2 separate regions of the Homo sapiens genome follow, and region 2 is linked to region 1. The links come from fine-mapping of genetic effects on gene expression. Tissue or cell type: whole blood. Region 1 holds a variant in brackets; the other region holds the start of a gene. All regions are shown on one strand. Distances are between the middles of the regions.

What was found. PIP is the estimated chance that this variant, and not a neighbour inherited with it, causes the effect.
Region 2: LINC01801 starts here. The variant in region 1 is fine-mapped to the expression of LINC01801 in whole blood (TOPMed, PIP above 0.99).

Annotation. Positions count from the first base shown.
Region 1 is chr19:34,813,877-34,822,061 of GRCh38, reverse strand. It overlaps LINC01801 (long intergenic non-protein coding RNA 1801), which reads left to right. Exons shown (of 6, transcript NR_033982.1): 5 at 3,296-3,475; 6 at 4,572-5,908. Among named protein-coding and RNA genes, the nearest start is that of LINC01801, 15 kb to the left of the region's middle. The variant G/C (reference allele first, on the strand shown) is at 3,617.
Region 2 is chr19:34,828,659-34,836,843 of GRCh38, reverse strand. LINC01801 (long intergenic non-protein coding RNA 1801) reads left to right here and starts at 3,975. Exons shown (of 6, transcript NR_033982.1): 1 at 3,975-4,119; 2 at 4,308-4,514; 3 at 6,318-6,438; 4 at 7,591-7,680.

The DNA.
Region 1 (8,185 bases):
CTGTCGCCCAGGTTGGAGAGCAGTGGTGCGATCTCGGCTCATGCAAGCTCCGCCTCCCAGGTTCACGCCATTCTGCTGCCTCAGCCTCCCAAGTAGCTGGGACTACAGTCACCCACCACCATGCCCAGCTAACTTTTTGTATTTTTAGTAGAGACGGGGTTTCACCGTGTTAGCCAGGATGGTCTCTATCTCCTGGCCTCATGATCCGCCCGCCTCGGCCTCCCAAAGTGCTGGGATTACAGGCATGAGCCACTGCTCCCAGCCTCAAGTGTTTTTTTTATACATAGCATATAGTTTTGTATTTTTAATCCAATCTAACAATCTCTGCCTTTAAAATCATACATTTAGACAATTAAATTTAATATGGTTAGATGTCGTTGTGTTTACACTGACAATTTTGCTGTTGCTTCCTGTTTGTTCCATCTGGTCTTTGTTTCTTTTTCCTCTTTGTATACCTTCTTTTGGATTATTTTCATGATTCCATTTTATCTCTTTTGTTTACCTACTAAATATAATTCTTAAGTGTTTTTAAAGTGATTCTTTATATTATATAGGATATACTACATACTATAGTATAAACTATATAGAGTAACATATATAGTCTACCTCCAAGTAATATTATATTGTTTCACATATAGTATAAGAACTATACAATAAGAACAGTACACTTCCATTTCTCTCTTATCATTTGTGCCATTGTGCCATACATTTTACTTTTACAGAAAGTGTTTGACATGCACACACAAACACCCCCATACAAACACATATGTATGTATATGCATATATTTTTATATTTACTTTTTCCATTGCTACTCATTCGCTTGTGTAGATCCAGATTTCTAACTTGCACTATTTTTATCTTGCCCGGACTTCCTTTAGTTTTTTTTTTTTAATGAAAGGTATGCTAGCGATAAGCATTTACGTGTATAAAAAGGTTGAGTTGTGTGTGTGTGTGTGTGTACCTTCACTTTTAAAAGAGTTTCACTGGGTGTAGTTTTAGCACCTGTGTCTCCACATTCTGGCAGGTTCACAGGGTATAGGTTCACAGTATTTTTTTCTTTCGAGTTTTAAAAAATGCTAACTCATTGAGTTCTAGCTTGTGTATTTCCAATGAGAGGTGTGCCATATTCTGTTTCGGGGGAACTTTTGAAAATAATATATTCAAGTTTTGTTCATTCGTCTGTAGCTACATCTTACTTTTTCTTTGTTTCTCATTAGAACAATGCATGTGTTCTACTGGAACACATAATGTGTGCTTTTTCTTGGGATGTCTTTTGATTTTCTCCTAGAGACTAAGCAGTTTGATTATGATGTACCTGGATTTAGTTTTTTTCATGTTTTTTGTTATCTGATATCTTAAATTCATCATTTGTGTGATGGTTTGAGGTAGGGGTAATTTCCATATGCACAACCAATGAACTCAACCACATGTATTTAGGAGTCTGTTATCCTCCCATGTCCTCCCTCCCTATTTTCCCCTTCTAGGAATTCTCCCTCGGCCATCTTTTTTCACACGCCCAGTGACCGAGTATACCTTGATGAGGCCAAAACCTTTTCTAAACTCAAATAGCAAGTCTATGGATTCCTTCTTCCTTTTCCACACATACTCCTGCCATTCAGGCCAACAGAAAATGCTTCAAAATATCTACAAATTTTACTTCTCATCACCTGCACCACCACCACTGTGTCCAAGCTTTCATGATTATGACCATAGCCACCTAAATGGTCTCTCATCCCCAGAAACCAGAATGATCCTATTAAGCCTCAGTCAGATCACGTCATCCTTTGCTCCAAACCCTCCATGATTTCCATCTGTGAGTAAAAGGCAATGTTCTTATCACATCCTCCAAGGCCCCACTTAGTCTCTTCATCCCTCTCCATCTCTATTCCCCCTTCTTCCCACTCTGCAAAGTGCCAACTTCATCCTGGTCCCCTATTGAGTTGCTCACTGCTCCCTGCGGGCAAGAGACATCCTTCCTCTGAGCCTTTACAGTGGCTAGTCCAACTAATTGGAATGCCTTTCCCTCAGATAACTGTGTGGTTTGCTTAATTGTTGCCTTCTAGACTTTGCTCAGATTCCACCTTCCCAATGAGGTTTACCATTTCCAGTCTATTTAAATAGAAACTCACACTTCTCTCTAGCCCTAAACTCAATCCTACGTTGGCTGCCCTTCGTCTCCCTGCAGTTGTTACTGGAACCTATCAAATAATTTACTAATTTATTACATTTGTTGTTTATTTTATTTTCTCCAACTAGAATTAGGTTTCATAAGATTTTTATCCTTGTTTTTAAAAAATTGATGCTATTACCTAAAGTATTCCTTAGACTACTCATTTTGTCTCAAATAATAATATATATGCCCAACTGATGACTAAATGGGTAAATGAATGGCTTTATGAATATCACCTACGTCTTCCATAGCCATGTCAGACTATTAGAAAGTTAACTTAATGTATGTTTTCCAAAACAACTCATGTCCGTTTATCTAAACCAGATGGCTAAAATAGCCCTGGTCTTGTTGGCATCGCCTACTTCCCCTTGCCTCTTCCCTTACCTCTTCAACCATCCCACTGTCAGTTCCTCTAGACTGGGAGCTCAGTGGCTCATTTTTGCATTGGATCACTGCAAAAAAATTTCCTAAGCCTATCTGCTTCTATTCTGGCATCTATTTAATTCTTCCTTTCAGGGAGGCATAGAGTGTTTCTAAAATCTACATATATCATGTAACTTCTTTGCTTATCCTTTCACGATTCCTCATACTTTGTGGATAATGGACAAATGCCCCCTGATGGTATGTCTGTTTGTCCATGATCTGCACTTGCTGAACACAGCAGCCACATCTCCCAGCTTGGGTTTCACTCTCCAACCACATTTGATTACTTGCCTGGTGTCCCACAGGGTCATGATCTCTTTCTTCCTTGACTTTTAATTTAATTTAATTGAATTTAAAGTTCCAGGATACATGTGCAGGTTTGTTACACAGATTAGTCTTCCCTGACTTTTAGCATGCTATTTCTTTGACCCCCAAATAGCCTTTCTCTGCCTGGACACTTCTTCCTTCTTCTTTTTTTTATTATTTTTTATTTTTTCCATCTCTCTCACACCTAGTTTTATGTCCTTCTTACCTACTCCCGTATCGCCACCACTATCTTTCCAGGTGTAATATTTGGTTTATCTATCTGTCTCTCTCTGCTATACTGTAAATTGCTGGGCTGCAAGAGATAAATCTTTGAATTCTATATCACCAAGACCTAGCACTGTTTAATATAATACATTGACTCTTGAACAACACAGGTCTGAACTGCACAGATCCACTTACATGTGGATTTTCTTCCACTGCGGCCTCTCCTGAGACAGCAAGACCAACCCCTCCTTTTCATCCTCCTCCTCCTCCTCAGCCTACTCAACATGAAAATGACAAGGATGAAACCTTTATGATGATCCACTCATCCATTTTCTTTTCTCTAGCTTATTGTAAGTATGCTGTATATAATACATATAACATACAGAATGTGTTAACTGTTCATGTTATCAGTGAGGCCTCCAGTCAACAGTAGGCTACTAGTGGTTAAGTTTTGGGGAAGTCACAAGTCATGCAGACATTTTGGACTGCGT[G/C]GGGGAAGCAGCACCCCTTACCCCCACGCATTGTTCAAGGGACAACTGTAATCTGTAAGCAGCTGAAGGAAATGCTTGTACTTTATTTTTCTTTCCACCATCTTAAGATACCTTCATGGGTTGTAAAATACTTTAAAAAGATTGTATTTTCAGCACAGTACAACTCCAAGGTCAGCCAAGTCTGTGTGAAATTATAAATCTTGTGACGATATTTTTGTGGTTAGGACTCGAGATAGACCAGTTATTTTTCCAAATAGAACCTATCCTGCTATTTACCTTAAAAGATAATCATTTGTAATGTGTCAAAGCAACATGATACCAATATCTATGTAATCTATTACATCCTAACAGACTTAAATTTTTTTTAAATTACGGAGCAGTCATGCGTGAGTTCTTTCTTCCTTTTTTCCTCCAGGCCCAAAAGCCTGATTGCCAAGCCAATCATCCATAGGTGAAAGTGTGAATGTTGCTGGACGTGGTGGCTCACACCTGTTATCCCAACTCTTTGGGAGGCCAAGGCGGGAGGACCACTTGAGCCAAGTTTGAGACCAGGCTGGGCAACATGATGAGATCCCCATCTCTCCCCCACAACCCCCTGCAGCCAAAAAAAAAATTGTGAATGTGTGTGAATTACTGGCATACAACTAAATTAAACAAGCAAAAAAGACATTTAAACTCCATGTTCTAGATCCTGGGCCCTGGGCCACAGAAACTTTGCACAGTTAAGCCTGGCTCAACAATCATGGCTTATACAAGTCAGTATTTTCTCCATCATTGAGTTAGAGCAAAAACACATGAGCAGAGGAAACATGGCAGACATAGATAGCAGTGGGTGTCCTGACAGTTCCAAGACAGGAGGAAACCCCCCCAAAGCTTAGGTCTTCCAGGATAACACTGAAACTAGAGTGTAGTGTTGCACGGCTGATACTCACCCATCTCTCTCTTCTCTCCACAGGTGAACATCTTAGGCTAGTGTGTCGACTTCTGACTTGGCTCATCTGAACCCAAGTCCTTGGACACATTCACAAACACCCCAGGGTCTTGGGCTTCCAGTTTGTGCTAGAAGGACAAAGGGCAGGTGAAGCTTGTTTGCCGTAACTAGAAGGAGCAGAAACTGCTCCCAGCAGAACAAGATCAAATCATGGGGAACAGTGGTCACCTGCCATTTCTAGAGGAAGCTTTTGCTTTTGGTCACTGAGGACCCTAAGTCTTACATGAGAAGAAAACAAATAGGGTGATGCTGCATGCTTCTGTCCCCAAAGAATCCCTGTGCAGGTGCCGAGGGTGCCCCAAAGACGAGGCTGTGCTTGCCGTGCCCACCACAGAAGCACATTTGACCTGATCAAAAGCAGGTGGAAAAGGTCCTGAAGCACAGATATTTTCTCAGTGATGTTGTTTTCTCCAAAATGAAAGAGGGAAGGTACCCTGGCTTAGGCCCCTGGTGTTCTGATTGAAGGTGAGAATGGAAGTATCTTCTTCAACATGTTCTCCCATCTGACTGCAACAAGTGTGCTCCAGCCACCAGTGTCCCAGTTGCTCTGAATGATGGTGAGAAGGGTACCCAAACACTTGAATGGTACTGTACCCTCTACTTGCCATCTGAATCCTCACTTGTGGAACCCAGGCACTCTGGCTGTATTCGCGAGTAAGCATAGGTGTGGGACTGTGTCCTGCCATTGCACCATCTTTAATCTGGACTTGTGGACCTCAGGCTCTCTGACTATTCATGGACAGAAGTTTCTGCAGGCACAGGTGGGGTGCTGTTTCCTCCCATTGTACACCTGAATTCAGGACTTGTGGACCCCAGGTGTTCTGGCTGTGTTCATGAACAGAAGTGTCCCCCCCAAACAAACCCATATATGGTGCCATCTCCTCCCATTACAGGTATGGTGCCATCTCCTCCCATTGCAGGCATTGCACTGCCTATACTCTGGACTTATGGCCCTCACATGCTCTGATTGTATTCATAAACAGTAGTTTCTTCAGTCACAGATATGGCACCAGCCCCTCCAACAGAAACAGATGTGCTCAAGCTGAGTGGTCCAAAGGCGTTTGACAGAAGTCATGAACAGAAGTATCTTGGGGCACATGTTTCTTCTCTGTTGTGCAGGCTTCTCCAGCAGTAACAGGTTTGCCCAGGCCATATGGGCCCCAAGCGCTCTGACCAGACACAAGAAGAGAAGACTTGCAGTCACAGGTAGTGTGTTGTCCCCTGCTACTGCAACATAGGTGCTTGGAAAGGTGCAACAGGGTGCTCTGCTTGTGGTGGAAACATAAAGGCCTCCAAGCATAGATGTGCTGCTTTCTCCTTCCCTTTGAGGGATGCAGATGTGCTCTGGCCAGCTGCATTCCAGGTGGTCTGTCTGCAAGACAGAAGTGTCCCAAGCACTGGTATGTGCGGGCTCCTCCAACCACAACAGACGTGCTTTGGCCAGATGGTTTCCAGGTGTTATGAACACAAGAAGGAACAGAGGTGCCTTCTGGAACATGTTTCTTCTCAGTGATGTTCTAAGAGGTGTGCTTTGGCAGGACAGGCCCCAGCTGCTCTGACTGTAGGCAGGGAGGAAAGTGTTTCCCAGGAGTTTTTGCTTTCAGTAGTACTGCCCTCTCCAACTGTACCAGAGGTGCTGTAGGCTTGCAGGAACCCCGGTGCTCATGTGTAAGCCTCCCCAACATAAACTAAGGTGCTGCATGCCCCTCTAGGCCCTGTTCTAAAGCTGAGTGCTTCAGATGTGGAGCTGGGTCTGGGGCAGACACACTGGTCCTAGAGCTGTCATTATCCAAAGAAGCCCCAGAGTCCATGAATGGAAATGGGTCGAGAGAGGGGTTAGCAAAAGGTGAACTGTGCCTGATGCTGAGCATCCAGTGATGGCTCCAGAGCTAGAAGTAGTGGCTGTGCAAATGGGAAAAGGACCCGAGGTGCCACCCAAGGCTGAGTGGGTGCTAGCAGAGATATCAAAGATGGATATGGAGGTAACACGTACGCAAAATCTGATGGCATTATGCTCCCATTGGGTGTCTGGGCTGCAGTAAAGGCTCAGTTTAGAGCTTGTATTGAGATTTTACGTTTCTCAAAGGGTAAATGCTATCAAATACATTGGGGGATCCTGCCAGGGGGAGGCTAGAAAGAGGACATGGTAACCATATTGATTTCATCAGAGTTAAAGGCAGACTTGGCTGCCCAGTTGGTCAAGGTCCTAGCTACTAGAAAACAGACAATTGCTGAAGTAGTGATAAGTATGATGGTGCAGACAGGTATCCTAGAAGACTGACTCTTTGCTGCTGCCCTTTAGGAGCTCCAAATGTGACTGAGAGGTGGCTTCTGGGCTAAAGGAAAGGTTCAAAGTGGGGTAGGGCTGTTTACCATAAACATAGGTGGGTTAGTGGGGACTGCCTTTTGCAGGGGGCTGTCCACTCCACACTGCAATGAGCCAGTCAAATGGGAGTTCCAAGACCAGAGGAAACCTAGCCCAGAGCTTGAGTCTTCCAGGCTAACCCTGGGTCCTGGGGGGACCAGGAGATGAGACCCAGGGAATAGTAGTGTCCATGTCGGTCATCTCAAAGGTTCAAAGCAGGCTGGGAGGTCAAGTCTGCAGATGGGCTGACTGGGCAGTGGAAGTGATAAGGTTGGCCAGTTAATGATGGGTTGATATATTCATCTGTTTTCACACTGCTATGAAGAACTATGTGGGGCTGGGTAATTTATAAACAAAAGAGGTTTAATTAACTCACAGTTCCACATGGCTGGGAGGCCACAGGAAACTTACAATCATGGCAGAAGGCAAAGGGGAAGCAAGGCATGTCGTACTTGGTGGCAGGAGAGAGTGCAGAGGAAACTGCCACTTATAAACCGTCAGATCTCATGAGAATTCCCTCACTATCATGAGAACAGCATGGGGGAGACCACCCCTACAATCCAGTCACCTCCCACCAAGTCCCTCCCTCCACACATGGGAATTACAATTCAGATTACAATTCAAAATGAGATTTGGGTGGGGACATAGAGCCAAACCATATCAGTTAGTCAGTGAAGACTGAGGTATCTGTAGAAGTGAGGGAGGAGCACAGTGGTCTGGATGAACCAGTGGGGTGATAGTCAGGGGACTGGCATTCAGTGAGGCTGGGGGAGAAGCTTCCTAAAAGCATTGCCCTTGAAAAGCAGGGCATACCTATCTGATACTGAGGATGTAGAATGCAGTTTGGAGATGCTTCCTAGCTACCTAATCTTCCAAGGCAAACCATGCACTCTTCATCCTGATATTTGTGATGCCTCCCTGGGCTACATGACAGAGGGTGCACTGCAAAGGATGTGAAGGAAAGTCACCACAGGGCAAAGGTGGAAACCCAGGGGCCTTTCCCCAGTGAGACTTTCTGGCTGTTCCTTTGGAACTTCCACCTGCTAGTTGCAGATGTTTGCCACTGGATGGGGCCCCATGCTACGTGGGAACTGTTCAGGACTGTGGGTACTTAGTTCCAGCAGAGCTGGCTCCACCAGGGCACCAGGACTGCAGGCTTCTCAACTCCTGGCCTGGAGAGGCAGCTTCAGCAACCAGTGCCTGGGAATCCACT
Region 2 (8,185 bases), 15 kb before region 1:
ATATACTTATTCTTACTCAGTGCTTCCATTCTGAATTATTTCCTTGAGAGAAATGAAAACATATGTACACAAAAAGGCTTGCATGACACAAAAAGCCTTGCATAGTAGGCAAAATTCATAAAAGCCTTATTCATAATAAGCATAATATGGAAATATCCCTGATACCAATCCACATGAGAATAGAAAAAGAAATTATGAAGTATTCATATTACTCAGCTATCAAAGAAAATAACCCCTGATGACAGACAACAAAAGTACAAAAGCACAGCATTCTGCTAAGTGAAAAGAATCCTTGCACAGGAATGCATACTGCATGTCCCTATTTATATGAAAAGCTAGGACAGCCAAAACTAACCTATCTTGGGACAATCCTTGAAGAATTGGAGAGGATTGACTGAACCTGGAGGTACAACTGGATCACAGCAGTGAGCAAATCAGGGCGTTGGGTCGAAATCAAAATACAGAGATAAATCTCTATAAATATAAACTGTTTTATTTGGGAAGTGAAAATTGCAATTCAGGGCACACAACTGGGCAGCCTTTTAGAAGAACAAATAGAAAGAGGTTTCGTTAAAAGAGCAAAGACAATTTATTTTGCAAAGACAACTCATTGGCACTAGTAAAGTTTTGGGGAGCTGGCAAGTTCTGATTGGTAAGTGATAGCAGTGGGTAAAAGTAATCATAGAGTCCGGCAGGTTGTTTCAGAAGCTACTACATAAAACCGTTTTTGGGTTACAGCAGGCAATTTCAGCAGCTAGGCTTGCAAAGAATTACATTCTTGGCGTGCCCTGAGTGTGTTTTCTCCTCCTGGCCTTCCAATTCTGTTTTAGTTGGGTATAACAAGAATGGCTCAATTTATATAATCAACTTTCACACTTGCCAGCCATAGGAAGCCAGGGCATCCTACCCATAAGTGACTCTCTCTCCAAGGGCTGAGCTGTTCTCTTCCTGTGCCGACAAACTGCTCCAGGGAGAGGGGATCTGGCTGATCCAACATGGGTCAAAGTCCCACAGTCCAGATATATGTGTCTCAGAAGGTGGGGGGTTCTCATGGTCCATGGACTTTCCTTCAGATAATGTTGGAATTGCTCCGAGAAGGGCTAGTGATTTTTACCCCTATGTTCACCATGCCTTTTCTGCACACAAGAGTGCTTGTGTCTTTGCTCTCTTCTTGCACTGCTCCTCCCGGCTGACCATCTTCCCATTCTCTGCCGTGCCCCTACCTTAACATTGTTTTCTAAATGAACCTTTTTCATGTTTAAAAACTGTTATAACAGTTAGAAAGAAAATCTGGCCTTCTCTGCCATTATTATGGCCAATTGCATCTACGTAGCAAAATCTGTTTATAAAACAATGATTTTAGAATGATATTCTTTCTACCTTTGCTTCGTTTTTTTCAAATCAAGTTTTGGAGGTAAAATTCAGCAATTTCAGCGGCTGCTGAGAAAAAAATTCAGAGTCAGGACCTGCCAATGAAGAGGGTCCCCAAAAAATACTCAGGTTTTCATGTAAAACGTCTGAAAGCCAGTATCCCAGAAATAAGGATAACAGGAGAGAGCCAGCCTTCAAAAAGAGTGAAGCATGGCTCTGACTTACATTAATCTCAGAATAAAGTGTGCTTTCCCATCCTAGCTGCCTTCTACATCCAAAGGTAAATCCCTTCAGAGGATTTATAGTAGCATCAATAAACATGAAATAAATCTACAAAAGACATGCAAATCGACAGGAGAATTCCAGAGCTAAATGTGAAAAGTTAAGCAATAAACCTCATAGTAGGCATCACTGAAAATTTCCATGATATTGGAAGTGATGCTGGGCAGGCAAGCCCAAATTGGGGCTTAGCTTGGGAGGGTTCTTTGCTTCACCCAGCAAAGGATTCAAGGGTGAGCTGGTGGTGGAAGAAGACAGCTCTATTGAAGAGGCAGTGTTACAGCTCTGTGACTGCTCCTGCAGAGCACGGTTACTCTATCGGCAGGGCGCAGAGAGCAGCAGCTCAGGGCAGTTCTGCAGTCATATTTACATCTACTTTTAATTGCATGCAGATTAAGGGGTGGTTTATGCTGAAATTTCTAGGAAAAGGGTAGTAACTTCTGGGTCATTGGGTCATTGCCATGGAAAGGAGCAGTAATTCCTGCATGTTGCCATGACAAATGTAAACTGACATAGCACACTGGTGGGTGTGTCTGATGGAAAGCTGCTTCCACCCTGACCCTGTTTTAGCTAGTCCTCAATTTGCTCCAGTGTCCAAGCCCCGGCTCTGGAGTCGAGTCCTGCGTCCTACCTCAGAAGTAGTCGAAAACATACACATGAATGTTCACAGCAGCATTATTTCTTTCTTTTTTTTTTTTAAAGAGAGATGGGGGTCTCACTATGTTGGCCAGGTTGGTCTTGAACTCTTGGTCTCAAGCAATCCTCCCTCCTCAGTCTCCCAAACTGCTAGGATTACAGGCATGAGCCACTACACCTAGCCACAGTAGCATTATTATTTCTAATAGCCAAACATCCATCAATAATAGAATGGGTAAATTATATTTGTTCAATGGAACATCACACAGCAATATAAAAGAATAAAGTGCTGCTAAAAGCAACAACATGGATGAATTTTATGAAGTGTTGAATGAAAAGACACAGCCACAAACAGGACACATGGTAGGGTTCCATTTATATAAAGTTTTTAAATAGGCAAAACTAATCTATAATGTTAAAAATTTGGGAGGGGCATAGTGACTAGGAATGAGCATGAGGTTGATTCTGAGGTGCCTGTGTTTTGCTTCTTGATCTAGATTACATAGGTTTGTTCATTCTGCAAAAATGTATTGAGGAATAGACAGATGATTTGTACACTTCTGTGTATGAATGTTATATTGTAAAGTTTCTTGAAGAATACCTGTTTACAAGAGTTAGAGAACATGGAAGCTCTTTCTCTGAGATAAAACATCTAAAAAGACAAAAATTAGCCGGGCGTGGTGGTGGGTGCCTGTAATCCCAGCTACTCGGGAGGCTGAGGCAGGAGAATGTCTTGAACCCGGGAGACAGAGGTTCTAGTGAACCAAGATCACACCACTGCACTCCAGCCTGGATGACAGAGGAAGACTCTGAGACTCCGTCACAAAAAAGAAAAAACAAACAAACAAACAAACAAAAAAGCCCTAAGTCATATCATGCCAGTCTCAGCAGTTTGAAACCCTCCATGGTTCCCATCTCTCAGTAAAAGGCAACGTTCTTATGACATCCTTCAAGGCCCCATGTAGTCTTTTGGTCCCTCTCCATCTCTGTCCTCCTGTCATCCACGTCTCCCACGTGCTGATTGGGTCTGGTAGGGTGACTGGGTGGCAAAGACCTCACAGAGGTGCCTTTCTGCTCAGGTGGCAAACAGGAGAGTCTATCTGGGCCCTGCAGGATGGATCCTTCCTGAGTCACTGAATATATTGGAGGTGCAGACAGCGCCAGAGAAAGGCATTGAGCCTGCCAGATCAGACACCGCCTCTTAGGGTCGACGGAACACCCAGGAGCAAAGACCAGAAATTGTGGGAGAAAGGCCTGGAAGGGGGCCGGGGAGAGGCACAGAGACAGCGAGGTGATGCAGGCTTGGTGGGAGCGGGTATGGTAGGCAATGGGGGACAGAGGGGCAGGGCACAGACAAAGCTTGCTGAAGATATGAAGAGCAATTGTGAGCCGGCGAATCCTTGGAGTAGAGGAGAAAATTGAGGTCTCCTGTTCAGCCCGATGCAGGTGAGATGCTGTTGGAACACGTGACAGAGAAAGGGTGTGTGAGCCCAGGGCTTGTGCACTAAGCGCACAGGAGCGAAGGGGGCGAGAAGAAAAAACGACGCCCAGCAAAGAGCGTCAAGGCCCAACCGCCTGCCCCCAACCGGTCTCTAGCGCCTCGTGACCTTCTGCACTCCGTTGCAGGCGTTTGGCACCAGATGGTCCCACGCGCTCTGTTCGACGGTTGGGGGCCGCGGACGCTGGTTGTCAGCAGCACTGGGTCAGCCGGTGAACGGGTGTGCAGCGTCCTCAGCGCCGCAGCAGTCAGCACCTGTGGGTGCTCTAGCTCTTTCCCTCGGGGTCACCGGAGGCAGAGCCTCCCCTACGCGGAGTAGAGGAGCAGCTCACATGGTGCGGGGGTGGGGATCGGGCTTCCTGGAAGGCTGGAAATGGGAGTTGGGATAAGGGGTTGGCGAGGGCGGGGCGGCACCGTCTACCGGGGTGACCGGTGTGCCCTGGCAGCCAGGGAGTCTGCTGCAGGGCAGGTATTAAGATTCGGAGAGACATAGGACAAAGAACCCTCGGCCTCTTCTTTTCAGGCAGCCGCCACAGAGGACACCAGATCATGCCAACACCCCCACAACTCCTGCCCGCCTGCAGGCAGCTCTGGGCTCAGGACACCGCCTGCAAGAACCTTTATAGCGCAGCTCTCCAAACCTTGGAGGCGAGGACATTCTATGTGCCCGCCCTGGAAAGGCCTGAACCTATAACATCTGGGCTGTGATGGTTTCTGAGGTGGACACCAGGTATTCTAAACTGCCCACATGCTTCACCCCAAAACTTCCCTTTCTAACAGGCAGTGTATTTTCACTTCTTTTAAAATATTTGGTAAAACAGCATTTAAGCCTTAGAAAGTTCCCCATCTCACCCCAGCCAGGGTTTGAACCCATGCTGTCTGATTCCACAGATCATGCATTTAACCACCAGACTTTGGTGTAGCCTCACCGTGTGTGCATAATGGATTACACTTGTTTATAATACTTGGGGTGCTTAGCACCATGTCAGAGCTGTAATGAGTACTTGCACTGTTAGGAGGTCTAACATGGTTCAATTTATAAGTGGACCATTGGCCACACCGGGTCTGGCTCAGTCTCCTGGGAGGATGTAGGCAGGGACCACCAATTATCAGCATATCTCCATGATGAATTTCTCCAGACAGCGTATCACTCTGTCACACAGGCTGGAGTCACAGCTCACTGCAACCTCGAACTCCTGGGCTCAAGAGATCCTCCCACCTCAGCTTCCCAAGTAGCTGAGACTGCAGGCATGCGCCACCACGCCTGATAATTTCTCTTCTAATTGAGCTTTGCAGAAAGCCACACAGCTGTCTGAGAGCTATTTTCTCCCAGGTATAGGGACAGGAAATGGCACCTCAGACTTCTGCAGATTCCACCCTGGCTTAAAAGCCCATGCCCCCAAGGACACCAATCTTTCTTACAATAACATAGACTATCTTTCAGGGTCCTGGCCAAGATGGACAACTTGCCAATATTAACTTTTCCAGGCCACAGGGATGATATATATCTCCATAGATTTAGGTCTTGAGTATTTTCTCCTAGAAATATTTCGCAGCAAGGGTCAGCACTGCAGCCTATGGGCCAACAAATTTAGCCTGTAGCCTACATGTAAGGCCAGTGAGTGAAGGATCCTATTAACAATTTTAAAGAGTTGCAGCAGAATACACAGAAACACAAAGAGTCTGTGTCACAGACAACGTGACCCACAAAGGCTATGCTACTTATTAGGCTGGTGCAAAAGTAATTGTGGTTTTTGCCATTACTTTCAAACCGCAATTACTTTTGTACCAACCTCATACTATCTGGCTTTTTAAGAGAAAATTTGCAACTGTTTTGCAGTTGTCTGTGCATAGATCTTCCACAGCTTTTGCTAATTTATTTCTAAGTATTCTATGGGGTTTGTAAATGCTATTGTAAATGGAATCTTTTAAATTTTAATTTTTGATAGTTCATTGGTAGAATATAGGTAATACATATAATACAGTCCAGTGTCGCTTTAACAATGGGAATACCTTCTGAGAAATGCATCATTAGGTGATTTTCGTCATTGTGCAAACATCATAGACTGTACCTACACAAACCTAGATGGTATAATTGACTATACTCCTAGGCCATATGGTATAGCCTGTAGCTACAAACCTGTACGGCATATACTGAATTTGAGGCAATTGTAACACAACGTTAAGTCTTTGTGTATCTAAATATATCTAAACACAGAAAAGAAACAGTAACAATGTCATATTATCTTATGGGAACACTGTCGTATATGCAGTTCATTGTTGACCAAAACCTTGTTATGAGGTGCATGACTGTGTATGTACATAAATGTATATATGCATACATATTGAGTTTGTATATTGAACCTCACTGAAATCGCTTTTGATTTCAGGTAGTTTCTTTGCAGATTCCATAGGATTTTCTACATACACAATAATGTTTCTAGGAATCATGTTTCTGTGAATAAAGCTAGTTTTCCTTCTGTTGTAATCTACATGCTTTTTATTTCTCTTTATTTCCTTCTGTATTTGCCAGGACCAACACTTGTCAGCATGGCACAATCAGGCATTTCTCTTCTAAGTAGGATGTGCAGCCAAAAACTCAGCTGTCTGTGAGCTGTCTTCTCCCAGGAACGAGGACATAAGATGTACATCAGGTAGATACAAGATCCATGCTAGCTTAAAAGCTTTATGCCCCAAGGGCACCAATATCACTTGCAATAATTCCATAGGCCAGCTGTCAGGGCCCTGGGTGAGATTGATAATTGACCAATATCAACTTCCCTAGCCCCTGAAAATGATGATGATGATGGGGTGTGTGTGTGTGTGTGTGTGTGTGTGTGTGTGTGTGTGTGTGTGTACTCACGTACTATATACATATATTGGCATATAGTAGTATATGGACAAAACAACTGCTTTTGATATATTTACTTTTGTATTGAAACCTTGCTCATTTTCTATTTACATTTTGTAGTTTCTTTGTAGATTCTTTAGTGTTTTTTTTTTTTTAGTCTTGCTGTATCCCCCCTAGGCTGGAGTACAGTGGTGCAATCTCAGCTCCCTGCATCCTCTGCCTCCTGGGTTCAAGCGATTCTCTTGCCTCAGCCTCCTGAGTAGCTGGGATTATAGGCATGTGCCACCATGCCCAGCTAATTTTTGTTTTTTTAGTAGAGACCAGGTTTCACCATATTGGCCAGGCTGGTCTTGAACTCCTGACCTCAGGTGATCTGCCCACCTCGGCCTGCCAAAGTGCTGTGATTACAAGTGTGAACCACTGTGCCCAGCCCTCTTTCAGATGTTCTACATAGACAAACGTTTTCTGTGCTTAAAGGCACTTTTCTTTCTTCTCTTTTAATCTCTATGCCTTTTATTAATTTTTCTTATCTTCTACATTTGCTGCAACATCCAGGAAACTATCAAATACAAGAAGAGACAATGGATATTCTTTCCCAGTTCCTAATCATAGGTTAAGAGTATTCAGTATGGTATTAACTGAAGATTTTTTGTAGATATGCTTTATCACAGAAATGAATTCTCTCGAATTCCTGCTTTACTTAGAATGTTTTTGGTAAGTGGTGTGAGACCCACAGCTATTGAGATCACCATAGGACATTTCTCTTTTATTCTCTTAATATGATGAATTACATTGATTGATTTTTAGGTGTTAAATGAATCTTTGCCTTCCTGGGGAAAAACTTACTTAGTCACAAAAGATCATCTTTTTATATTTGGTTTTCCTAAAGTGTTGCCAAAGACTTTTGTGTCTATGTTATGAGCGATATTAATCTGTAATTTTCTCTTCTTGTTAGGTTTTGATATTAGAGTAATACTGGCCTTATAGAATGAGTTACGAAAAGTTGCCCCTTTCTCCACTTTCTGAAAGAGTTTGTGTAACACAGGTAAAATATTGTTCTTACACATTTGATAGAATTCACCTGAAAAACCGTCTGGAACTGCATATTTTTTCTTAGAGGATGTTTATAATTCCCCATTACCCTTTTAATGTCTTTCAGATCTGACTCATGCCCTTCCCTTTTTATTCCTAATATTGGTAATTTGAGTTTTCTCTTTGTTATTTCTTCTTCAATCTTGATAGAGGTTTCTCCATTTTATTACACTTTATAATTTCTATATTATATATAGAAATGTCTATAAATAGAAATTAATAGAATTAATGTGTCTCTATCATTTCTATTTCCGTGTCTATTTTTATTATTTCTTCTTTTCCATTCATTTTATATTTAATTTATTCCTTGATTCTTCTACTCAGGGTAGAAACCTAAATCATTGTTTCTTAAAATGTTTCTGTTTTAAACATAAACGCTTAAAGCTGCCACACTTTAGCTGTCTATCACAAATTTTGATTTGCTGTGTTTTGCTTATTCAGTCCAAAATATTTTATAT